2 separate regions of the Homo sapiens genome follow, and region 1 is linked to region 2. Evidence: fine-mapped expression QTL. A gene starts in region 2. The other region holds a variant in brackets. All regions are shown on one strand. Distances are between the middles of the regions.

What was found. PIP is the estimated chance that this variant, and not a neighbour inherited with it, causes the effect.
Region 1: its variant is fine-mapped to the expression of ARHGAP5 in whole blood (INTERVAL, PIP 0.91).

The regions. Positions count from the first base shown.
Region 1 is chr14:31,941,198-31,946,574 of GRCh38, forward strand. It overlaps LINC02313 (long intergenic non-protein coding RNA 2313), which reads left to right and starts at 3,656. Exons shown (of 2, transcript NR_146544.1): 1 at 3,656-3,911. RefSeq lists an enhancer at 2,938-4,137. The variant G/A (reference allele first, on the strand shown) is at 3,296.
Region 2 is chr14:32,074,461-32,079,837 of GRCh38, forward strand. It overlaps ARHGAP5 (Rho GTPase activating protein 5), which reads left to right and starts at 2,844. Exons shown (of 7, transcript NM_001030055.2): 1 at 2,844-2,975. ARHGAP5-AS1 (ARHGAP5 antisense RNA 1 (head to head)) reads right to left here and starts at 2,239. Exons shown (of 1, transcript NR_027263.1): 1 at 959-2,239. RefSeq lists silencers at 2,265-2,524, 2,885-3,104, 2,903-3,197.

The DNA of each region.
Region 1 (5,377 bases), 130 kb before region 2:
AGAAATGTGCCCAGAGTTCTAAACCTTGGACAGCTTTGCATCAAGACCTTTGGAGGCAGCTTTCACCTACTCATATACGTGATTCACCATCTCCATGGGGCCCTCTTTTCTTGATTATTAGGTCTGACTTTATTTACAGCTGAAATGTGATTCCCTTTTATGAAGATCATTTTTTATTCCAAAAAAGACCTTGGGTATTATGTCCTGTTCTCATGGTCAGAAATCTGAATGCTTCAATATACTGCATTTTGCTTTTCTTTCATAGCCAAATAAAAGAGAAAGACCACAGTTATACATAGTGTGTCAGTCTGGCTCACTCAGATTATGTTTGTAAAATTCCTTTTTCTATAGAGCTAATATTTACTCAGCACTGATGTCCCAGGCACCATATGGTATCCCAGGGACCATACTAAGCCCTTTCTATGGATGGTCTCTCTTAAGACTCAGAATAACCTTTTGTTTATAAACTGTCACATAGGAGGGTCAAACAACTCAGCCTGGTTCATACTGCCATCAAAAAGCAAAGCTGAGCTTCGAACCCAGGCTGTGTGTGCAAATCCCTGAGCTTTCAAACCACTGTGCATGCTGTCTCCCAACTCTTTGTTTTTTCTGTGCCTTTCTCTAGCCAGGAGGTTTTTCTCCACCTGCCCATTTATCTTCCATAATTCTTGCTCTTGGGACAGATGATTTCCAAGGTCCCTTCAAGTATTGAAATTCCATGACTGATTAAAAATTATAATGTATGCAGTTTGATTAATTTGCACTAATGCCTGAGTTCATTCACAATGTTAATTTCTTTACAAGGTTCCAACAGTTTTTTAACTTACAGATCTCCTTCTGATGTTAAAGGAATCATGCTGCTTTTCCTATAATAATATTTAAGTCCCCAGTTTTAAAAACATAAGGTTTAAAAATATATCTGAAAGGATTTTACCATGCATGCAACACACCAATTTTCCATATGGACCAAAATAGTCTTTTTAAGACCCTGTTCTCTCAGTTGTCTTTCCCAAGTCTCACAGATGCAGTGCTAATTGCATGCAGCTTCAGGTCCTTTATAACATGAGGTAACAATTTCAGTGTCTTGGGCTTGAATGCTGCATTTGTTAGACATGCCAGGCCTGGAATTGGTGTCAGCTCGTCAGGATGCTGAATCCACATGGAGAGCAACTCATCTGAACGTTGGGAAGCTTCCTGGAGAAACTCCTGTTGTGCTCCTCTCAGGCATGGCGTGAGAGCCAGTGGTGTGACTGGTTCCTTAGCTAGGATGCATCTTGGTCAGACTTGGCAGCACTGGGTGATGGCTCTTTGGGACCAGTGCAGGTATTTGAGTCTCTCTAGTCAAGTTGTACTTGTTGAAGAATGATTCCAGAAGTGACGTTTATTCACAGACCTACTACTTGGGCTACTTGGGCTAGCTCCAAGTGTCTGAGTGGCTCGGCGGCTGAAGGCAGACTGCACTTGGGACACATCTAAAATTCATTCTGACTGGATTGAGAAAACAAGGAGACCAAAAAGAAAAGAAGTGGCAGGATTCTGCAATCACATCTGTAACTGAGGAGCCACGGGATATAACTTTGGAGAATATCTTGACCTGATCTTGCTTTGCAGCTTGTCTGTAGTTCTAGTCTTTAGAGTCGCGGAAGCCTGAGTTCCCACCAAGCTCAGCTCTTAATGGCTGTGTGATAATGAAGACGTCACTTGATCTTCCTGAGCCTCAGTTTCTTCATCTGTAAATTGGGATGAGATACCTCCCTCATGGGTCTGTTGTGAGGACAACATGTGATGATCCTGCCAAAGCTCTCTAGGCACTCTGTGCTTAGCTGTGTGGCCAATGCACAGTCAGCAGCGACACGATGCTATTTTTACTGCCTTCTTTCCCTCTTTCCCCAAGAGGACACACTCCTCTAGAAAAATAAGGTTCATGCAAACCTGCACTTTAAGAGCATTTATACAGATGTGCACGATGCAGTGCATGTGTCTTGATGGGGCTTTGTTAAATTGAATTTTAAAATTGTGTTTTAAATATACTTAGGGAAGTACAGAAAGGTACCCCAGAACAGGTTGTTTTATAAAGACAACAATAATTTCTGAATTATTTTCATTTCAGCTTTTTATATACTGTGTAGTCACAAAATGAGAGACCCTCCCCCACTCACCCCACCCTCACAGCTCCCCAGAGGAACAATAGCCATGAGCAAACAGTGCTTGCCTCCTGACCTTCGGGTGTTTCTCCTAAAGGCTAGCTCATTTAAGGGCAGCAGTCAGGGGCTTGCTACTCTTCGCAGCCCTGTTTCTTTTCTTGTGATGAGAAGAAACAAGCCCAGGCTGACAGCTGGCCAAGACTTGAACTAGAATGTTGAAGTTGAAAAGTCAAAATGGGTCTGTGTCAAAGGACTAGCAGAGGGGAAGGGACTGTCCTCCGGGGAGCTGAGGAGTGAGGATGGTCCTCACCTCGATCCAGCGATCAAATTCCCCAAGTAAATCCATGTAAAACATGAACTGTGGCCAGCACTTGTTAAGCAAGGAATATTAAAAATCATTGTCATTACTGCTGCTATTATTGTTACAGGCTTGTTCCAAGACTCTGGGTTTTGGCTCAGCTTGTCTAAATGGTCTTCCATCTTAAGGAATCAAGGGGTAGATTTTGGAACCACTAGCTCCATAGCCAAAGAAGGAGCAATCCAGCAACTTAGGCATTGATTCCGCAAGCCGTCCCAGAGCCTCTGTGTAGTCCTTACTTTCCCTAAATTGCCATGACTAGCTGGCTCAAGTTAGGCCTTTCTAATTTACCTGGACCGTTGCTGTCTCCTGTGCACGGCTGCGGGGATGAGCACCTTGTTGTGCGTTCCTCCGCTGGGCTGACGGAAATGGTTTGCAGCCAGACTGCTACGCCACGCGGTCTGGCATTTAGTCCTCAGAAATCTGATTTAGAGAACGTATACATTGCATCACAATCTAGATTTCAGAGGAAAGTTTTGGATAGAATAACCCAGACCCAAGTCTGGGTAATTTAAAGCCTGGGTGAAATGGGGCAGAAAGAGCCCAGAATATACAGGTCTGAATCTTGGCTGGGGTGATGTGGAAGACTGGAGGCGCCAGACGGCTGGCCTCCCTCCAAGTGTTTACCATGCTGGTGCCATGGGGCTGGGGCTGGGCAGTCCATGTGCTCATTCTTCCCTTCTCTTCTCCTCCTCCTCCCCCTCCATCTCTCCTCCTCCTCCTCATGTTTTCTATAGGCTAGAGAAACTCAGGAACTACTGACCCACAGGGAAGGCAAGCGGAGATATGAGAC[G/A]GAGGAATCAAACGCTGCCCTGGTGGAGGACGCTGTGGGTTTACAGTGGATGATTTCCTCTGCCTATGAGATAAAAGGGCTGGCTCTGTACTTTGAACCCCAGCCTCACCCACCTCTGCCTGGGTGTGGCTCTTACTCTCTGGAAGACTTACTCAGGGGAGAGGACAGGACAGTGTGAGGCTTGAATCTCCAGGAAATAGAGTCTGTGGGCAGCCATTGACTCCGAGTCAATGAGAACAAGGTGTGCTGTTTCCTCTGTGCTGTTTCTTCCCTGCCCCACTCCCCGCCCCTTTGTCCTATGGTGCCCAGGCTGCCTGCACTGCCCAGATACCACAGGCCTTGCCAGGGACCTCCTGAGAGGTTTCTGAGGCTTGCAGCCAGTGGTCCCGTTAGTCTGCACGTCTCCGAGTTGCCCTCCCAGAGGAGAAAGCATATGCTGCTGGGACCGACTGCAGCTCCTCATGGATGCACCTGCCACCAGAAAATTGTTGTTCAGTCTGGGATTGCTTTCTCTTCCCAAAGCACAATCTCACATGCAGTCATGAGCCCAGTCCAGCCTCTGGGACAGAAGATTTCGTGCTTTTATAAACCAACAGCACTGCAGGTGCTGCACAAGGTAAGTGTCTCCCTTATTTCTTTCCCTCCCCGGAAGCCTCTGTATCAAACTAGGAGTTACCTTAATAGGGTCAAAGGAGGGTGTGGCTGTTTCACTTCCTGTTGTCAGCAGCCAAGTGTGCCTGAGGACAGAGGGTGGTGGGCAGGCATCCATTATGTGTAGGGAGGCAGGTATTGTACTGCTCTGGAACACACTGAGGAAGGGGGGTGCTCTGGCTTCCCTGACACCACCTCCCTGGTCAGGCTGCCGCAAGGCACCCAGATGTCAGTTGTCTTCCCACAACCTAATCATTCACAGCTGCTCCAGGGCCACACTTAGGATCTCTTTCCAGCGGTCCTCTTAGTCTGCCCCAGGGGCATGGCAAAGGAGGGCCTTTCATCCAGGGATCTCACACTCACAGAGACTTCACATTTGGATTTTTAAAAATTTATCTCTGAAGATATGCTAATAAGACTGAAAAGATGGAAATGATCATCAGCTTTAAACTTATGCCTGATTTTGGTACCAGGCCCATGAATTTTTAAGATTAATCCTGCCATTATCCCGTGAATAGGATGGTTATATTACCCTGTGCGTTTTTTTTTTAAAGCTTACACGTGTTAAAGCCTTAATTTATTAAATGTAAACTTCTAAAATATAGTATATCACAATTTTTGAAACCCTATTTGGGGATTTCTTCATTTTAATATACCTGAAGCCTCAGATAATGGGCGTGTCCCTGGTCTTTGTCCTCCAAGCGGCCCATTGGCCACTCCCCTCTTGATGGACTGTGGAGAGAAGCTGTTCCCTTTCCACGTGGTCATTTCAACTTCAGAAAAATCTCAGGTGCAATTGCCTGTTTCATTACAGCAGCTAGCCTATAATGAAAGAGGCCTTCGAAGCTTAGGCATGCCCAGTTTGGCCCCTTTCTTCATTTTACACACTGTTTTCTCCTCCCACAGGAAGGCTTCTCTCTACGGGGCTCAAAGCTACAGGCTCTCCACCATAGGGAAAATGGCCGACTAATATTCTTGAGTTCTTTACCCTTAGGCAATGGGGCTCAACTGTGACTGCACATTGGAATCAGTGGAGAGTTTTCCAAACATCCATCCGATGCCTGGGTTCTACCCCCACAGAACCTGATTTACTTGACCTGGGGTGTGGCCTGGGCATTGGAATTTTTTAAAGCACCCCACATGATTTTAATACACTACAAAGTTTCAGAAACAGTGCCCTAAGACCCTGGTTCTCAAACATTAGAATTCATCAGAATAATGTCCTCGTGGGGAGGGTCTTGTTAAAGCATAGATTGCTGGGCACAGTTTCTGATTCAGAGTTTCTGGATGGTACCTGGTAATCTGCATTTCTAATGAGTTCCCAGGTGATGCGATGCTGCTGTTCTGGGGATCATGTATTTACAACAGTTGTGCTAAAAGAAAGACAGTTAGAGTGGTGGGTTGGGAGGAGAAATGTGAGTGAATGCATGA
Region 2 (5,377 bases):
ACTGGTAAACACCTTTAGACTATTAGTATTAATAAGAAACGAAGTCCTAAATTTCCAGGCTCCCTAAATCAAGATAAAGAACTGAAAATAATGTCGACTATGAAAATCATTGTTTGGAAATCGTGATCTTTTTTTTTTTTTTAACGTCTTCTGGTGTCTTCATTATAAGAAAATAAATGAGATTTCAAGTCTTCCCTGCCTCCAGTATCATGTCCTATAACTGAACATTACACCTTTTTAACGTTTTCTTTAGAAGCCCTGATTTATTTGGCTTTGGTTTATGTTGATACATGTCCATGATTATTAAAATTTCTGATTATTTAGGACATAATTTTTAAGGTATCTTTAGGGTGTACACTCTATAGTACTTAACATCTTATTCAGGTTATGACTTTGAACTGCATCATTATAACACTAAAAAGCAACCTTGGCTAACTTCAGTACCTTACGTAACATAAGAAATAAAGAATAACTTGAACTTAAAATACTTTTTATATGTTTACTTCGGGTATTCTTAAGGGCTTTCAGTACAAAGATAAAAACATGCGTTGGAATGCATCAACATTCCAACTTACATAAGTGGTGTAGATACCTATGGCATTAGTACCACATTTTGATGGTTGGACCACCCACCAAATTCCCTTCTCTCCTTTTTTACTTCTTTTTCTTTCTGTTTGCTTTCCTTGCAAGTTTCCTTCCGCATCCTTCTTTCCCACCTACAATTTGTAACTGAAAGAAAGAAGTAGCTACAGACCTTACCTAACCTACTCTTAACCTACTTGGTAGGTAGGGTTCAGATGCAAGGGAGTGGCTCGAATAAAGCATTTTAGTTATGCCTTTTAGAAATTAGGGAGCAAGAGATATATAGAAAAATTAGAAATGTCTCTTCTACCTTTATTAAGTCTACCTTTGAGAAATATGAAGGGCAGGAAGACGGAAAAACGAACAGAACTTCTGCTGGAATATTGTGACAAATTTACTGACAAATATTTTCTAATAGATTTTTACCAACAGGCAGTTTTTGTTTTCTTTACTGACAGACCGTAAATGTACTTCTGGTTGGCAGCAGCTGCATCATTATAACACAAAAGCAACCTTGGCTAACTTCAGTACCTTATGTAACATAAGAAATAAAGAATAACTTGAATTTAAAATACTTTTTATATGTTTACTAACATTAAACTATTTTCAATGCAGGAAATAAATATTTCCCCAAAGAGGAATCCCCCCTCAATTACTTTCTTTCAGACTTAACAAATTGGAGTAGATGTGGTTTTGCTCATTCTTTTATCTGCTGGCAACTATTTTAAGTCTCCTGTGCAAGGCAGATTCCGATGACCTCGGGAAAGTCACAGGACCTCAGTTTCTTCAATGGTAAAAGCAAAGGCAGTGGTTTCTACCGTCCTTTCTCACTGCACCATTCAGCGTCAGTGCCCTCATGAGAAACACACCCAAAGCCCAGTGTGCTCTACCCCAAAACTTGTGAAATTTCTAGAGTCTCAAAAAAGTGAATATGTTTAAGGCAGTATAATAAAAGCCAGGTGGACGACAGTTCCTAAAGTTAGGCTGGTAGTGGCGTGAACAGGGGTCTTTTGGGCCACCCTGAGACCCGCCCCACGGGGCTTCTCGATCCACGTCTTGGCTTCTCGCTCCACTTTCACAGAACGTACTGAATCAGGGGCCTGCATCCCCGTGCCGTGCCGAGCCGACGGAGAAATGGACTCCTCTTCTCGCTCCTGTGGAGTTTCGTCTTCTGGGTGAGTGTGGCACCGGGTCCTGGGCGGGTGATGTCTGTAGTTGGCGAGCGATCCTCAGCCAGAAAACTGGCTGCGCACACAGGCGCAGACACGCGAACATGTTCCTGCGAACGAGCTTGGGCGCATGTTTTCCTCCCTTGCTTTCTTTAATGCTCAGAGACCATAAGGGGATTTATCGAGAAGCATTCGGTGCCCATGCCCGGTTTGGAACCGCGAGCACAATATCTGGTTCCTTTGCAGTACGGTGGTTTGCTCTTGAGTTACGACCAGAAACCGGAACAGAAGGAAAGGGAGAAGCAGGGGAGGTTCGGGGACGACGGCGCTCCGGGCAGTAAGGCAGTAGCTTCCAAAGCGTGGAGGATGGGACTGAGGAGGAGCAGAATACGGAGAAAGAGGGAAGCTGAGGAAAAATACTCACGCCAATGGGTAAAAGGGAAAAGGTGAGAAGGAATGGAGTAGGGGAGGGAACCAATGGTGGGAGAGGCGGAGGAAGAAGGGGGAGGGGTAGAAGCCAATGGGGGAGTGGAGGGGAGGGAGAAGCAGAGGGGAGGAGGGAGCGGGGACGCGAGCGAGGACGCGGCCCCGCGCGCTCGTCCCCCTCCCTCCGACTGGATAGCTCGCGCCTTCCCAGGCTCCCGGGAGACGAGGGCAGGGGCGGGGCCGTGCCGGGTGCGCGGCGCGGGAGGCGTCGCGAGGTGAAGGGGCGGGGACGGGGGATTGTGGGGAGGGCAGCGCGGGTTCGCGCGCGCGCGCGCGTCCCGTCCAGGCTGCGCCGCCGCGCCGCCGCTCCGCCCCCGGTCGGGTGTGTGGCTGCGCGCGCCGGGAGAGATGCTGAGGTAAAGTTCGGGAGAGAGGGAGAGAAATCCGTCAGCGCGAGGGAGCCCGAGTGGCCGCCATTACTGAGCCCGGCGCGGCGGCGGGCGCTGGGGAAGGGGGGAGGGACGGGCCGCCGCTGGTGGCGGGGAGGGAGGGAGGGAGGGTGGGTGAGCTGGCTGCGGGAGCCGTGGGGCTCAGGGTTTCGGGGCGTGTGTGTCGGGGAGGGCGGGGGGAGGTGGCTGAAGGGACGCGCCGCTCGGTGAGCGCGCCGAGGAAGAGAGGCGAGCGGAGAGTGGAGGAGGAGGCGGCGGCGGCGGGAGCGGTCCCCAGGAATGTCGCTGCCGCCGCCACCGCCGGGGCCGCTGCCGTTGAGGAGGAGACGGAGGAGACCGACGTTGTTAGGTAGGACCTTGCGGACCCCGCTCCTCCAAGCCTGCCTGCCCCCTCCCGGACGGGGACCCTCCTGCGGCTAGCTGCCCCGCTCGGTCGCCGCTGCCGGTTGTAACCAGTTGAAGGGGCTGGGGCCCCGCGGCCGCCGAGGGGAGCCTGGCGCTGCGCTCGGTTTTCGCAGGCCGGGCGGGCAGCAGCTGCAGCGTTAGGGATACGTTCGGCGTGAAGGGCAGAGAGGCCGGGGGAGGGGGTGCTTTCTCCACAGGTGACGGGGCCAGGGTCGGCGGAGGCCTGATGCTGGCCGGGGATCGCCGGCCCCGCCAGGCGTCCGCTCTCGCCCGCCGCCTCACTTGCTCGAGTCTCGGGTGGTCCGTCGAGAGGGGAGGTGGCGGTGTCCGTTGGCCGGGTTGCTGCTGTTAACGAGTTCCACCTGGAAAGGGTACACGGGGCGGGTGCAGATTCGCGGAAACACAGTCTCGGTTGCAAACTTAAACGCCTTGTAGGGGGGATCGGCCCTTTCACTTTCCCTCATCTCCTCGACTCCTCCCTGGGTTCTCTTCACCAATTTTCCATCTGCTTTGAAGCTTGGAGTAAGATATGAGAAGTTGCACTGCGCATCCAGAGCCCAGAGTCCTATGGGCTGACTGCGACTGGGTTGAGGCTTTGATACTGAGTTTTCGCTAGAATAACCTCCAGATTCTTCCTCTCTTTCCACTAAAGAAAAGTATCGGGGTGGGGGTGGGGAGCCGCGCGGGAGCGCGCGCGCACTTATCCACACAGAAATACTCCCTCTCACCCTCCCTCTTCAGCGTTATTAGAAATGCAAGAGAGCTGGAGGCTCGGGGTGTAGCTGAGGTTGAAAGGTGCACGGAAGTAAGGGCAAACTGTTATTAGGCCGTTTAGTAAAATCCCGAAAAAGTTGTAGGGGAGACGCTTATACTTCTACCATGTGATAGAAATTCGGATTTGGCCATCGCTTAATAAATGGGAATTCAAATATTTTGAGATAGAGCAAGATAGGCATATAGATGGGTTTGTGCTTACGTTTTAAGTTTAAATTCTTATCGATCATTTATTTTTTCCTTTGTGATAGGCAGGAAACTGAATTTTTTTTTAAATGTTCAGGTGTAAAACAGCAAAATGCTTCGCTGTATTTACTAGTACTTGCTTATGTTGCTTTCTACAGGTAGGGGCGGGGGGCGAGTTTGTCAATTCCACTTAAATCCAGAACCAGTATTCAGTTAGAATGTTAGGTGGTGTTTATCCGCATGAAGGATCTCGTTCACTTCATGGGAGCTTGCTCTACATTTCCACTTAAAATGGTTCTCCTAACAAAAATTTCATCTAGATGCAGCGATTAGACATTTGGAATAATGTTTGGTTTAAAAATACGTTAATGAAACCTTTTGCTGTCAATTCTAGTTTATTTGTACTGTAATACGATAAAACGGTATTCTTATTCAGTGTTTGTAGATAAGTATTACTAACCGTCTAGGTAACCTACTAGATAGTTTCTTGAGTAAGATTTTGCTTTCATTTTAAATTCCTTTCTCATTTTTTGCTTTCATCTATCCTTTGTATACTAATTGACCTCCATTACCTTTATCTGTAGTACAAAGAGCGGTAAGTATGTGTCACCAAAAACTTGCAAAGACACTGGAGCAATTTATGACTAAACGCACTGGAGTGAAAGGCTGCGCATACCTATGCTTGTAACTTTCAAGAAATAGCACTATTGATCTAATTGACTTAAAGCAGAATCAGACGGTACAGATGATTAAATAACTATTGATTTGGTTGTCTTGTGTAGGCTGTGTTTTTAAACCTAGATCAACATGTCTTATTTTGCCATTCTTTGTACATTAATTATTAAGAGTACTGGGGAGTGAGGTGGGTTACACTTTGATGTAAGAATTGCGGCAGAATTCTGTTATCTTTATGAGTTTTGTAGTGTCCCTCCCCATTTAAACGACCTTAGCAATTTTTAAAATGTGTTGCAAAATTATTACCTTAATTCTGTCACAAGATACTTATCCTAAATGTTTTGAAAACCGTCTCCCCTTCTTATTTGTGTTTGAAAAGCATATTAGCACAGTCATTTTTTTGGAGAGTTATTTTGACCTTGAAAGTTAAGATTATTTAAGGAATGAATATTGTATTTGCATTCCTTTTTTGGATTTGAAGTAGCGATAATAAGTTTTCTAACTCACTTTTTTTAATTGAAGAAAAAGTTAGGTCTCATAAAGACTTTACTAAACTTTACCAACATTGGCAGGATGTAAGATGAGTGTTGGCCTTTAGTGGTCACTTCTTAAATATGAAATGGCATAATAGAGATTTTCTTGGTAGCTACAGAATAAGTTTTGTCGCAACTGTAGTTTCCATAGATACTATTTTAAGAACTATTTATTTGG